2 separate regions of the Homo sapiens genome follow, and region 2 is linked to region 1. The links come from fine-mapping of genetic effects on gene expression. Tissue or cell type: whole blood. Region 1 holds a variant in brackets; the other region holds the start of a gene. All regions are shown on one strand. Distances are from middle to middle.

Region 1 (7,996 bases):
ACTGCAGAGAACCCCAGTAAGATACTTCACAAGGTCATCCTCGAGACATATAATCATGATTCTCCAAGGTCGCAATGAAAAAAGAAAAAAAAAGGCAGCTAGAAAGGTCAGGCCACCTACAAAGGGAAGTCCATCAGACTTAACAGCAGACCCCTTTGAGCAGAAACCCTACAAGCCAGAAGAGACTGTGGGCCAATATTCAATTCTTTTTTTTTTTTTTCCTGAGATGGAGTCTTGGTCTGTTGCCCAGGCTGGAGTGCAGTGGCATGATCTTGGCTCACTGCAACCTCTGCCTCCCGGGTTCAAGAGATTCTCCTGCCTCAGCCTCCTGAGTAACTGGGATTACAGGCACGTGCCACCATGCCCGGCTAATTTTGTATTTTTAGTAGAGACGGGGTTTTACCATGTTGGCCAGGCTGGTCTCAAACTCTTGACCTCAAGTGACCCTCCCACCTCGGCCTCCCAAAGTGCTAGGATTACAGGTATGAGCCACCTTGCCCGGCCTCAACATTCTTAAAGAAAAGAAATTCCAACCAAGAAATTCATATCCGGCCAAACTAAGCTTCATGAGTGACAGAAAAATACTATCTTTTTCAGACAAGCAAATGCTGAGGGAATTTGTTATCACCAGACCTGCCTTATTAGAGCTCCTGAAGGAAGCACTAAATATAGAAAGGAAAGACCAGTCACTACAAAAACATACTTAAGTACACAGACCAGTGAGACACTATAAAGCAACCACACAAACAAGCCTGCATGATAACCAGCTGCTATCATGATGACAGGATCAAATCCATACATCAATACTAACCTTTAATGTAAATTGGCTAAATGCCCCAATTACAAGGCACAGATTGGCAAGGTGGATAAAGAACCAAAACTCAATGGTATGCCAAGAGTCTCATCTCACATGCAATTACATCCATAGGCTCAAAATAAAGAGATAGAGAAAAACCTAACAAGCAAATGAAAAATAGAAAAAAGCAGCAGTTGCAATCCTAAATCAGACAAAACAGACTTTAAACCAACAAAGATTAAAAAAAAAAAAAAAAAAAAAAGACAAGGGTATTACATAATGGTAAAAGGTTCAATTCAACAAGAAGACCTAACTATCCTAAATACATATGCACCCAACACAGGAGCACCCAGATTCATAAAGCAAGTGCTTAGAGACCTTCAAAGAGACTTAGACTCCCACACAATAATGGTGAGAGAATTCAACACTCCATGACAGTATTAGATCACTGAGGCAGAAAATTACAAAGATATTCAGGACTTAATCTCAGCACTGGATCAAATGGACCTGATAGACATCTACAGAACTCTCCACCCAAAAACAACAGAATATACATTGTTCTCATCATCATCTCATGGCACATACTCTAAAATCAGCCACACAGTTGGACACAAAACAATCTTCAGCAAATGAAAAAGAATGAAAATAATAACCACTTTCTTGGACCACAGCACAATAAAATTAGAAATCAAGACCAAGAAAATCGCTCAAAACCATACAATTACATGGAAATTAAACAACGTGCTCCTGAATGATTTTTTGGCAAGAAATGAAATTAAGGCAAAAATCAAGAAGTTCTTTGAAACTAATGAAAACAAAGAAACAACATACCAGAATCTCTGGAACACAGCTAGTGTTAAGAAGGAAATGTACAGCACTAAACACCTACATCAAAAAGTTAGAAAGACCTCAATTTACAAAGTAACATCACAACTAAAAGAACTAGAGAATGAAGAGCAAATCAACCCCAAAGCTAGAAGACAAGAAATAATCAAAATCAGAGCTGAATTGGAGACTGACACACAAAAAAAATTCAAAAGATCAACAAATCCAGGAGTTGGTGTTTTGAAAAAAAATTAGTATCTATTTGATAGACGGCTGGCTAGACTAATAAAGAGAGAAGATCCAAGTAAACACAATTAGAAACAACAAAGAAGATATTATCACTGACACCACAGAAATATGAACACCTCTATGGACACAAACTAGAAAATCTAGAAGGAATGGATAAATTCCTGAACATACACTCTCTCCCAAGACTGAACCAGGAAGAAACTGAATCCCTGATGAGACAAATAATGAGCTCTGAAATTGAATCAGTAATAAACAGCCTACCAACCAAAAAAAAAGCCCAGGACAAGATGGATTCACAGTCAAACTCTACCAGGTATACATAGAAGAGCTGGTACCAGTCCTACTGAAGCTTTTCCAAAAAAATTAAGGAGGAGGGACTCCTCCCTAACTCATCTACGAGGCCAGCATCACCCTGATACCAAAACCTGGTGGAGACACAACAACAAAAACCTCAGGCCAATATCCCTGATGAACATTGATGCAAAAATCCTCAAAAAATACTGGCAAACTGAACCCAGCAACAAATCAAAAAGCTTATCCACCACCATCAAGTAGGCTTTATCTCTGGGATGCAAGGTTGGTTCAACACATCCAAATCAATAAATGTGATTCATCACATAAATGGAACTAAAGCCAAAAACCACATGATCATCTCAATCAATGCAGAAAAGGCTTTTTGATAAAATTCCATATCCCATTATATTAAAAAAAAAACTCTGAATAAACTAGGAATTGAAGAAACATACCTCAAAATAATAAGAGTCACCTATGTCAAAACCACAGCCAACATCATACCAAATGGGCAAAAGCTGGAAGCATTCCCCCTGAAAACCGGCATAACAAAAGGATGCTCTCTCTCACCACTCCTATTCAACATAGTATTGGAAGTCCTGGCCAGAGCAATCAGGTGAGAGAATGAAATAAAGGGCATCCAAATAAGAAGAGAGGAAGTCCAACTATCCCTGTGTGCAGACATGATACTATATCTAGGAAAGCCAATAGTCTTGGCCCACAAGCTCCTTAAGCTGATAAACAACTTCGGCAAAGATCCAGGATACAAAATCAATATAAAAAATCACTAGTATTCCTATATACCAACAACAGTCGAGCTGAAAGCCAAATCAGGAATGCATTCCCATTCATGACTGTCACAAAAAGAATAAAATACCTAGGAATACAGCTAACTGGGGAGATGAAAGCAAAACACTGCTCAACGAAATCAAAGATAACACAAACAAACGGAAAAACATTCCATGCTCATGAATAGGAGAAATCAATATTGTTAAAATGGCCATACTGCCCAAAGCAACGTATAGATTCAATGCTATTCCTATCAAACTGCCAACGACATTCTTCGCAGAATTAGAAGAAACTATTTTAAAATTCATATGGAACCAAAAAGAGCCCAAACAGCCAAGGCAATCCTAAGCAAAAAGAGCAAAGCTGGAGGCATCAGGCTACCCAACTTCAAACTATACTACAAGTCTACAGTAACCTAAACAGCATGGTACTGGTATACAAAAAGACACACAGACCAATGGAATAGAATAGAGAGCCCAGAAACAAGGCCACACACTCCTACAACCATCTGATCTTTGACAAAGCTGACAAAAACAAGCAATAGGGAAAGGATTTCCTGTTCAATAGATGGTGCTGGGATAACCGATGTCATATGCAGAAGATGGAAACTGGACCCCTTCCTTACACCACAGACAAAAATCAACTCAAGATGGATTAAAGACTTAAATGTAAAACCCAAAATGATAGAACCCTGGAAGACAACCTTCAGGACTAGGCATGGGCAAGGATTTCATGACAAAGATGCCAAAAGCAATTGCAACAAAAGCAAAAATTGACAAATGGGATCTAATAAAACTAAAGAGCTTCTGCACAACAAAAGAAACTATCCACAGATTAAACAAACAACCTACAGAATGGGAGAAAATTTTTCTAACTATGCATCTGACAAAGTTCTAATATCAAGCATCTATAAGGAACTTGAATTATTTACAAGAAAAAAACAAGCCCATTAAAAAGTGGGCAAAGGACATGAACACTTTTCAAAGACATACACATGGCCAACAAGCACA[TA/T]AAAAAAAAAAAACTCAACATCGCTGATCATTAGAGAAATGCAAATCAAAACCACAATGAGATACCATCTCACACCAGTCAGAATGGCTATTATTACATCATCAAAAAATAACAGAAGTTGGTGAGGTTGCAGAGAAAAGGGAACCCTTATACACTGTTGGCGGGAGTGTAAATTAGTTCAACCATCGTGGAAAGCACTGTGGTGATTCCTCAAAAAGCTAAAAACAGAATTACCATTCGGCCAAGAAATCCCATAACTGTGTATATACCCAAAGGAATAGAAATCATTCTATCATAAAGACACAGGCACACATATGTTCACTGCAGCACTACTCACAATAGCAAACACATGGAATTAACCTAAATGCCCATCGATGGCAGACCAGATAAAGAAAATGTGGTACATATGCATCATGAAATACTACGCAGCCATAAAAAAGAAGATCATGTCCTTGGCAGGAAGATGGATGGAGCTGGAAGCTATTATCCTCAGCAAACTAACGCAGGAACAGAAAACCAAATACCACACGTTCTCACTTAGAAGTGGGAGATAAATGATAACATATGGAAACATAGAGGGGAACACCACACACTGGGGCCTACCTGAGGGTGGAAGGTGGGAGGAAAAAGAGGACCAGAAAAATAACTATTGGGTACTAAGCCTAAAATCTGGTCAATGAAATCATTTGTACAACAAACCCCGGTGACACGAGTTTACCTATATAACAAACCTGCACATGTAACACTGAACTTAAAAGTTAAAAAAGAAAGAAAATGTATATTCCAAAAGAGAATACTATAATAGGAAAAGAAAAAGGAATCATTCTTTAATGAAAACAACTATTTTGAATAATTAATTAGTTATTGGGGGAGGGGAAAAATTTAAAAGAGCAAAACCAGGGATATTTTGGTTTAAGAAGCCAAAGGAAAAAAATCTCAAGTTCAAGTTTAATTGTATCATTAACTCAATTTTTCGTAGTATAATTATAATATACAAGAAGAAATTGCTCATATTCAAAGAATGTCTTCCCAGTTATCTTTCCATGTTAACTTTTTGAAAACAGGAGGCAGGAGGTAAATCTATGTTTTGTCACTAGTTATGTGACCCACAAAAAATGCTGAAGAATTCTTCCACTTTGTTTTTACTTCCATAGTACTAGCTCCAAAATAGTCTTCTGATGATTAGGTAAGACAATGTATAGAAAGTGTTCTGTAACGCCAACTATTATTAATATTAGAATTACCTTGCTGATTCTGGATCCAAAATCAGGGCTTCTATTGCATGAGATATCAGTAAACAGCTCTGCTGCTGTCTGGATTGATGTTAAGGTTACATACGAAAATAGAGAAGAAACCCGCTATAGGTTTCTATTACTTGAATACTAAATTGGTCAAGATTTAATGATTGCCTAGTGAAGGTAATCATAATGTTATCAACTCGAATGGTCTGGGGCTCTACCTTTTCTTTTTAAGGGATATACATTGTCTATAATAGTGATCCTCAGACTCTGTTCCAAGAAGGGTACTTCGGAGGCTACTACTGTGGGAAGGGGAAATCAAGTGATAGGCCCCGTGATTCAATTACAGCAAGTCTGTTTTTATCTGTCTTAGATATAGGGGTTTTTCATAAGAGTTTGAGACAAACAAGCAAATAAAGCTTTCACTGATAAAAGTTAAAAAAAAAATAGAAACAAAAACAAAACACAGTGGTCTAAGGAGCCTTTATCCCAGAGGTTCCTAATCTAGTGCTCAAGAGGTCTGGCAACTCCCTGAACTTACATGCACATTTTGGGTGTCTCTGTATATATGCATTTTGTAGGGCAGAGGGCCCATAGCATTCACTGGGTTTCAATCAGTAAACTAAATGCCAAGAACTACTGATTGGAAAGTCCTACAACTTAAAAAAAGAATTTCTATTCCTTCCTTTCAAAAGTGATTTGAAGTTGCTAATAAGAAAATATGGAGAACTTAGGAAGGGTTTAAAAGTGACGACCAGGCTGGGCACGGTGGCTCACGTGTATAATCCCAGCACTTTTAGGTAGATCACTTGAGGCCAGGAGTTTGAGACCAGCCTGGCCAACATGGTGAAACCCCGTCTCTACTAAAAATATAAAAATTAGCCAGGTTGTGGTGGCACACACCTGTAATCCCAGCTACTAGGGAGGCTGGGGCAGGAGAATCGCTTGAACCCAGGAGGCAGAGGTTGCAGTGAGCCAAGATCATGCCACTGCACTCCAGCCTGGGCAACAGAGTGAGACTCCATCTCAAAAAAAAAAAAAAAAAAAAAGTGACAACTAATGCTACTGAAGAGATCATTAATAAAGGTGATAAAAACTAGGACTGTTGGCCACAAAGAAAGGTGAGGTGAAATACATGTTCTTTGGTGGGAAAATGTGTTGTGTTGTCTGTTGTAGCTCAAGTGAGCACAGGTAAGCAACACTGGCTTTGGATGTTGCTTTGGATGCTCTTTCTGGATATAAAAAAGACACCTTCGAGTCACCATTTTTTGTTAAAATCCTGGGTAAAGTTAAAAAGTAAGATTATTCTGCTTATATATTTTAAAGGGGAAACTATATAATAAATTTATAGGGTTATTTAACATGTATTTTGTAGGTAAGCATATCTGAGGTAGTCCGTATTTAAAAGAATACTTCCAAAAAGAACAAGAAGTACTAGGGCAAGCTTGGGATACAGTTCAACATTCCTCAAAGTTGCTGAGTCAGCATCAAAAGATGCCTGGTAAAGATCTCCATATCGAGAAGCAAGGCTTCGAAATTCTTCCATGGACTGTTTCATCTATAAAAAAAAATCAATTATGACAAACAAACATGCTATCATTATTGTATAAACAACACAAAAACCAAAACAAAAAAAAGCACCTTCAAACAATAACAATTCAAAAAAAATACTGCCATCTTTTCACTGTCATTCCATTCATTTTCATAAACTTTGTTAAATAAAAACAAAAATGGCAAATGAAACTATACATGTTCACAAGATTATTATATATGACATATAGAAACAAAAACATTTGTATTTTAGCGTCTTCAAGTTCCACTAAAATAATTTAGTTATAAACATTCTCAAGTTTTTAAAAAAATCTGTCCTTTCTCTTTATATAAATATGTAGCACCCATTGAGATAACATGAATCACTTTATCTTTCTAATAACACATCAGCCTATTTTTTAGCCAGACAGTTGAGTGAATAAACATTTATGATAATGTCTGAGTCAAACCACTGATTTTATATTTTACAACTTTTCATCTTATAACTTCGAAAACCTCTAAAGTGTAAATAAAAAATGCACTGAAAGTTAAGACATGCCTGATTGGAGATGCGACCACACCTCTGGAGGTCATTTCCTAAGGTCATGGCAATTGTTGTGGCAATTGCAGGTGGTGGGCTTGTCTTCAGGCTATTACAAGTACAGATAAGTTGAGAGAAGGCTTGTAAAAGGTCAATCCTGAGTTTTACAAATTCACACTGAAAGCTTAAAGGATTCAGTGGTGTACTAGCTGCCTGGGAAAAAAAAAAAAAAGAGATATTTAAGACAAAGTAAACAGAACAGTGAGATGGGGCAGTACCAAGTATTTATCAGTTTGTGGTCAAGTGCAGTAGTTCTCTAAAAACACTGACGGATAAAGACCTAAATGATAAAAAGAATAATGTAATATTAGAATGAAAAATATTGTTATTAAACACCAGCTCTGAAAAACTGTATGTACAACCACTATTCAAAGGTTCCTTACTGCCTACATTCACAAAGACCCCATAATATGTGAATTGTCAAGAACATCATCAAGAAGATAATCACGGCCAGGTGCGGTGGCTCACGCCTGTAATCCCAGCACTTCGGGAGGTCGAGGCGGGTGGATCACAAGGTCAGGAGATCAAGACCACCCTGGCTAACATGGTGAAACCCCGTCTCTATTAAAAATACAAAAAAATTAGCTGGGCGTTGTGGCGGGTGCCTGTAGTCCCAGCTACTCGGGAGGCTGAGGCAGGAGAATGGCGTGAACCCGGGAGGCGGAG
Region 2 (7,996 bases), 130 kb before region 1:
TTGTGATGAGTTAAGAGATAGTTTAATAAAACTTTAATAAATCTTCTTGTCTTTCACAAAAAAAATCTGTTTAGAACTAAGGAAAGATTTTTTAATAAAAATAAAATTTAGTTTTCCTAAGAAAAGAAAACCATGCTTACTATATCAGCTTTGTCCAGTAGTACTTGCTGTGATGATAGAAGTGTTCTGTATCTGCACTGTCCATACAGTAGCCACTAGCCACCTAGTACTGAGCACTTGAAATGTGGTTGGTGTGCCTGAGGAGCTAAATGCTAAATTTTATTTCATTTTAATTAATTTAAATTTAAACAGTGACATGCAGCCAGTGGCTACTATATGGGGCTGTGTAGGTTAGATAATCAACATAAGTCCTCATCAGCAGAGCTGAGTAATTCACTCATATTACACGGAATGTCATAATTTGGAAAAAGATATATATATATATATATATTCATTCTATACCAATATACCAATATTCAATTTTTAGCTTCCTAATTAGTATTTAAGGTTTCCTCATAAGTGGTTTCTCAACAAAGTTTTGGCAATTTTTATTCTAAAACATGAACATACTTAATCTGCTGAGCAGAATTCCTTTGGCAATGTTCAATTTTCCATCTGTGAAACTTGGGCATAGGGAAAAAAGAACTTCTTCACAAGCCCACCCTCCTATTGATGTAAAGGGAAGAAGTGAAATATATTATCTAAAGAAAGGCTAATATAACACCTGACATTATTTTATGGGTACACCTGTTCATCAACCTCTGCTTAGATGTGCTTCTTTAAACTCAGCTGAGGCTTTCAACCAAATTCATTCCTACATTTGTTTGACTTCTTGACTATTTTCTTTTATGATCAGACTATGACCAGGCTCTCTGAAATCAAGTATTCTACCTATAGGAAAACCTTTTAAAATATATACATTAAAACAGTCTATATTTAAATGAGACAAACTGATCAAATTGTCAAAATTCAGTAGCCTGAAGAAGAGCAGATGCTTCAGAGAGACTAAAATATGCAGATCATGCCAAGACCACATTCCAAGCAGGTGGCAAAAGAAATTACACAGTTCTATAGTCAGCAAGGAAGAGATACCCCAAGAAAATATGCTGAAAAATACATTGCAGCTATGCTATGGCCATAGGACAACTAACTTTGACTTCAAGCAGCACCACTGCACTCCCAATCTCAAGGTCAATGCCAAATTAATTTTACCTTCCCACCATGCTAACAATTAAATACACTATACACACGCACAAACATTTCAGTAATTTCATTTTAAGCAGAATGAACTTCTAGAACGGGTTTCTGAAAATACTATAAGCTAATTTAAAACAAGCAAACTTAAGTATACTATACAAGAATAAAGCCACTAGTACCATATAACATATATTTGGGAACACTCAAACTATACCAAGCCAAGCAACTCTAAGACAGCAGTGCAATTCAGGTAAGAATTCAGCACCATAGATTAGAACTTCGTTTTTTCTCTACCACTGCTATTGCTACCACCAAGTCCTAAAAAAGGGCTAGAAGCACACCTACTATATCCAAAAAGCATTGGAATCTCAACAAGACAGATGACAAGGAAGCAACGCATACACTATCCCAGGGGCTTCAGCTCTTGCATTATTATGCCACTGCCTGAAGGAGAAATAAATAAATAAATGCCACTGCCTGAAGGAGAAAAGGCTTCATCTGGGGCAACTGAGAATACTCAGACATAGCAAGGGTCTGTCAGACTCCATAAAAGCTGTATACTATCAGTCCTTCTCTTGCGTGTGTGGATAAAATGTGCAGGTGCAGCCTAGGCAGGAAAGAGGGAGACAGAATTTCAGATGGAGAACTGCCATACTGCTTGACCCTGGGAGTACCCCTCCTCACTCTGCCAAGCTATGAACTACAGCCTCTACTGACCACAGCATCTGCATGATCTTCAAGGAGCCTGCCTATCAGGTAGGAATTTCTGTGCTAAAAGCCTCCACATCTGACAAGTGCTAAAAACCTCTATGATTTTTTCATTATCTTAATTCTTAAGGGAAAAAAATCAAATAAATACAATAAACGATACAGAATTTTCACAGCAAGGGCATAAGTTCTCAAAGCATATAAGGTTTATCTCAGAAAATAAACACTTCTCATTTAGTTCTATAAAAGTCCACTTCTGAATAGTGTTACTCTTGCTTCCCCAAATGCAATTTAAAGGCAGAAATCACAATCTATTTAAAGACACTCAGAAGATAAATTAGCTTAACAAAGTTAACTTAATTTTTTATATTTAATACTCTCAGATTTATGAGATAAAATATAGATTCTAATAAACAAAAGAAACATACGTAAGAGAAAAGAAAGCCATTTTTGCTTGCTCAAAAGGCTAACAGTACAATATCACGTTAAATGATGAAGAAACTTATTAAACTATCTTAGCACAAATATGGTCCCATTCTTTTTCTAAATTTCCAATGTTTATGGGCATCTTCCATGAAATAGATGAAATATCTTACATCTTCACTTTATAAGCTCTCGAGTCCTATACAACGCACTCCTATTCCTCTACCAGAGCTTTTGCAGACCAGTTTTAATAAATGTATGTCAATCACAATAAAAACACTAAGAAATTTACCAATACATAATTATGAAATTATACTTCTGAAAACATTGGTCTTCCTGAGATTCTGAAGAGAAACCCAATAGAACTGTTTTCTTTTTATTTTTTTCAATAGTGAAGACATGAAAGCATCCTCAACCCAAAGTGTAATATACATTTAATCATGGTTCCTGACAAATTTTTTCTTATGCATTAAAGAAAAGTGTTCTCACTCTTACCTGTATATCCAGCATACCATCCCCAGGAAGCTACCATTCCTAAAAGCCATTTATACATGATTCCTTCGATATACCAGAACCGCTTACTGTCCAGCACTCGAAGGGGCTGAAGTATAATTACATAGCAGATGTAGGATGGAATAGCAACCAGGTTGTTGACGACCATGAAGGCAAACCTCATCAGTGCTTTCACCAAGAGCCAGCCCAGCCACGGAGCTTCTTCCAAAGTTATAGCCATTCTCACACTGGACTCCGTCCTGTCTTTCTGGGGTGAAAGAAAAATTCACTTAAAAAGGAAAATTCATTAAATACATCTAAACAGTCACCAACATAGAAATCGCCCCCAGCACAAAATAAAACAGCGAGGGTCGAAGCTTTCCGGGTGTAGTACCTCGGTGATCTCTCAGGGGAAATTCCAGAGGGGGACAGAGAGCGAGGGAGGAGGAGCCGCACAAGGTCAAGGGAGCTGTTCACCGAGGCACGAAGTATGTCACAATATATTTAGCAAATGATAACACAATTCCCATTCAGTAATCGGTGGCCGTCCCCGCACCGTGTCTCACTGCGGTCGTCTATTGGACTTAGAAAAATAGATCCACTCGCTTCAGACAACCTCAGGATCTCCAAACTGAAGACACAAGTGACATGACCGAAACAGGGTCCCCTCAATAAGATTTCCCAGATACTGAGGACCTCAGTCTCCTCACCACCACGATTCCTGCACACCGATGCATTCCTTTAAAAGGTCTCTGGCTCTAGCGAAGAGTTACCCTCAAAATTCTCATTTGTAGCAATAGGGTTTTTGTTTCCCTTTTTTTTTTAAGAAAAAAAATGGGGGGCCTAGAAAAAAAGCTTACAAGGTGAGAGGAAGAAAGTAGGGGGTTATAATGCGAAAAAGAGGAAGGACAGGAGTAGGGGGAAGGGAGCAAAAGCCAGAAAGAGGTAAAAGCCAAGGAACTGGGGATGAAGAGAATGAGATTTCCGACCAGAGGGCAAGGAAGCAGGGGATGATGAAAGGGGCAGAGAAGAGGCGACCGCAGCGCGGGGAGCCGGTGGAGCCTGCAGCGGTTTCCGCGGATGTGGAAGGGTCGTGGCGGCGGGCGCGGCCCGCGCGCCGGGCTCACCTCGGCGGGCGCGGACGGCGGGCGGCTGCGGAGAGCGGGGGCGGGTGTCCCCCGCCGAGGGGTCGCGGTCATGGACGCGGTGGCGGCCCAAGCGGCCCGAGGCGCTGCGCGAGCGGGCGCGCTGGCGCCCTACTCCCCTCGCGGCTGCCTGCGGACAGAGGGACGGCGGGGACTCAGAGGCCGGACCTGTCACCCGGGCGGGTCCCGGGGAGGCGGGCGGATGCCCCGCGCCCCCGCCTCCTCCCCGGGGCCTACCGCGCCCTCGTCCCTCAGGCCGCTGCCGCCTCCCCGGGCCACGCGACGACGACACCCCCTTCCCCGCCCCCAGCGCCTCCCCTGGCCCGGCTCCGCTGCCGCTCTGGGGCCTGCGACCGCGGAGCCGGAGGTTACCTCGGGCTGGCCGGGCCCCAGCCGGGGCTTTGGGAGTCAGAGGAGCCGGAAGAATGCATGGCCGGCGGCGGGGCCGGCGGAAGAAGGCGGTGGCGGGGCCCTGCCCCGCTCCGGCTGTGGCGCGGCCCGCGCCCGTTCCCCGGCGGCGCCGAGACTCGGTCCCCAAGGGCCCGGCCGCGTTCGCCCGGACTGGCGGGGAGGGGCGGCGGGAGGAAGCGGCGGGAGTCGGGACTGCGGCGGAGCCGCTCCCACAGCGCCCTCTAATGAAAGCGCCGCCGCCGCTGCCTGGCCCGCTTGCCCCGCCTGGCCCGCTCCCCCTACCCCTGCGCCAGCGAGTCGGGGCCCTCGGGGCTACCTGGACGCTCGGCCAGGACCTCAGTGAGTCCAGAACATACTGAGGGAAAGGGCCGCTCGGAAAGATCTAGGAATGAACACCCATCCTCACACCCCAGGAGTGCCTTGGTTTCAGTTGAGAGCCCCCTTTCAGCCAACACGGCCGCCTTTCATTGTTAGGGCTCTCTTCTCTGCCCAAACTAGGAACCTGTCTCCTTGACGGCTAAATGTCCACTTTTCATTCTTAATGAAACCCGGTTGCACTCATGGCTTTTCTTCTTAACCTCTGCAGTGTATTATTGTCTAGAGTTTCAAATTCATTCTTTTTACGGTCAAAAGTCTTGTTTCAGGAAAGCAGCTGGAACATTAATGGCAATTCCACTTTCCCATTCATCGCCCCCGCCCCCACCACCCCACCAAGAAACTCAGTGGGAATGAATGGTCTACACAGAGAAACTGAAATCTGGTTAGTCAAGAAGGAAAAAACAACCAAGTGCCTGGCATTAAGTAAGTACTCACCCGCCCGCCCTCCCCCGCCCGCCATAAAAAGAAAAACCGAAAAGACAAAAAACAGTGGCCATGGGAACTCCTAGACAGACCCCGTCACTTGGGATACTATAGCTGCATTCTGGTTCAAAGGCTGGACCACCTGAAGGAAAATAGAGAAATAGTCCATTGACCTACCCCCTTGAGCATTCTTAAATGATCTGCCTAAATTTTAGTTTTTAAAAATCCTGTTTATAAAACCTTATGTCCCTTAAGCACATTTGTAAATGGAGGGGATGGGGCAGGGCAGATTTCACACTCCCTAGGGAACTGCCATATTTGAATCAGAATGCCACCTATTCTGCCTATTTTGAAAATGTTCATCACAGCGTTTGCTCTGGACTCTCAACTTTCTCTAATTTCAGTTCCTCTTAGGTCCACAGGTGAAGGAAAGATATGCCCCATTCTATTCCTTGCATTCTCTCTTTATTGACAAGGTAGTAAGATCTTTAAATAAATCTCATGAGAGAGATAATATATATACTTTATTATTCAAAATATGTCATTATATTCTTCAGTAAGATAGGTGAGGTACATATTTATTTCCACAATCAAGAATAAACTCTAAGGATTCCATCTGGTCCATGCAATTCAGCTTTCCCACATGCTGCGTAAACGTTGGCTGACACCTGGAGAGAGATAACCTACAATGGGATTTACACGTGATTCCTGGATCAGGGACCATCTGCCAGAGGACCAGACACAGCAGCACTTGATGAAATGCAATTAGTACCAGGCCCAGAATTCATTTTCAGGCTCAGAAAAGAGCCAGAGGTTGGGCAGGACCTCTGGCTCTTTAGTGTACAAAAACAACACTTGAAGTGTCTACCAAAGAGACAGATTCTTCAGCATCATACCAGAACATTTTAATAATCTAGGTCCAGTGGACCTGAGAACCTGCTTTTTAAAAAGCGTCATAGGTGATTCTGATGCAAGTAGTATGCAGACCTTGCTTTAAGAAACCCTGACTTAGAGGTATTCTGAGATGATCACATTCTCTTCTAGACCCTTCATAATTTTAAATCATTTGATCATATGTGTTCTCATGTGTGTTAGTCAGCTAGAGCTGCCATAACAAAATACTGCAAACTGGGTGGCTTAAACAACAGAAACTTATTTTCTCGAAGTTCTGAAGGCCAAGATCAGAGATCAAAGTGTGGGGAGGTCTGGTTTCTTCTGAGGCCTGTCCCCTCGGCTTGCTGATCACCATCTCTCATTGCAGAATTCTGCCATTTCAGTACCTCCTTATGGAAGGAGTAGGGAATACCTAATCTCCTTGATCTTTTCAGATATCCTCATATTAACTGCTTCCAACCTCATTGGACTTTTCTTGAAACTCAACCAACAGTACAACACATTATGTTCCAGGTATAGATATGCCCTGGTTTTGTGCCAAGAGTGTAGGAGAGGGGTTATCTTCTTAACTTTCTGACCACAATATCAGTTTCAAGATAATTCAGCTGCTATAATAGATAAGAAACTGTTAGGGCTGACTTCTTAAGGGAACAATTTCAGATGATGCTTGTGTTTATTTCTTGCATTTCGAAGTTCGTTTTAGTTAGTTTTACCTTCCTCTTGCCTATACTACAATTTTTTTGCCCTGCCTCCTTTCAACCACTTAGGAAGCCTCCTGAGATTGTTCCATAGCCTATTTTATTGCACCATGGACAGAGAGATGTATGAATGCTCTGAATGACTGTAACAGGAAGATTGGAACAGCCAGTTCTCCAGGGTAGACTGTTCTGTGGAAAACAAGGATCTTCTTCAATGACTAGTTAGCTTCTAGTCCCCTATCCTGCTACCTTAGAGCCATCTTTATCAAAACACAAACATGAAGCCAACAATTTCAACACCTTCATGTACACTCCAATAGAGAAAAGAGGGAAATGAACAGACCCCACCCTATAGCCACAGACATTATTGTTTCTGTTTCAAAAGCCCACATTTGAACCACAAGAGAATGGTCCTTTGAAAAAGAAAGAGGATTTCTTACATTTCTTGGAATCGCCAGTCATTTGAAAGCAATATAACCACAATACCTTAGAAGGTTGAATTCCACCCATCTAGTCCACATACACACAACAAATTAGGTTATAACCAGGGAGAGGTTCCCTTGGGCAGAAGAGTACCCCCTGGGCCCTCTCTTTTTCCTAGTGGCAATTATAAAAACATTTTACCTACCTGTGTTGGTTTCTGCACTAAAGCTCCAGTGAACTATTTCCTGTCTAGGGAGAAACCCTACCAGCAATAACCTTCAATGACTTGGCACAGGCCCCCTACATTGCTAGGAAACAGTTGCAGGCTTGAAATCAGCAGCCCAAAAGAGTCATGCATTCTGACTGTTGTCAGCTTTAACTTCAAACAAAAAATGGAAATATATATGGATGTTCTCTTCTATATTCATGTCAATAATTATTTTATATAAAATGCTCCAGGGCTTATAACCTTAAAATTTTTCAGATAGGGTGAGCCAAATCATCCACACTTGGCTGAGTGTGGTGGCTCACACCTGTAATCCCAACACGTTGGGAGGCTGAGTCAGGCAGATCACTTGAGGTCAGGAGTTTGAGACCAGCCTGGCCAACATGACGAAAACCTGCCTCTACTAAAAATACAAAAATTAGCCGAGCGTTATGGCACCCGCCTGTAATCCCAGCTACTCGGGAGGTTGAGGCACGAGAATTGCTTGAACCTGGGAGACAGAGGTTGCAGTAAGCCTAGATCATGCCACTGTACTTTAGCCTGGGCGACAGAGCAAGACTCTGTCTCAAAGAAAAAAA

The links. PIP is the estimated chance that this variant, and not a neighbour inherited with it, causes the effect.
Region 2: it holds the start of LPGAT1, and the variant in region 1 is fine-mapped to the expression of LPGAT1 in whole blood (INTERVAL, PIP above 0.99). The same link has a PIP of 0.9 or more in monocytes.

The regions. Positions count from the first base shown.
Region 1 is chr1:211,961,225-211,969,220 of GRCh38, forward strand. INTS7 (integrator complex subunit 7) reads right to left here. Exons shown (of 20, transcript NM_015434.4): 14 at 7,289-7,483; 15 at 6,654-6,757; 16 at 5,206-5,274. Among named protein-coding and RNA genes, the nearest start is that of INTS7, 70 kb to the right of the region's middle. RefSeq lists enhancers at 6,810-7,310, 7,311-7,811. The variant TA/T (reference allele first, on the strand shown) is at 3,961.
Region 2 is chr1:211,826,236-211,834,231 of GRCh38, forward strand. LPGAT1 (lysophosphatidylglycerol acyltransferase 1) reads right to left here and starts at 4,528. Exons shown (of 8, transcript NM_014873.3): 1 at 4,338-4,528; 2 at 2,824-3,088. The coding sequence starts at 3,061. LPGAT1-AS1 (LPGAT1 antisense RNA 1) reads left to right here and starts at 4,726. Exons shown (of 6, transcript NR_135820.1): 1 at 4,726-4,805; 2 at 5,021-5,177. RefSeq lists a silencer at 3,953-4,712.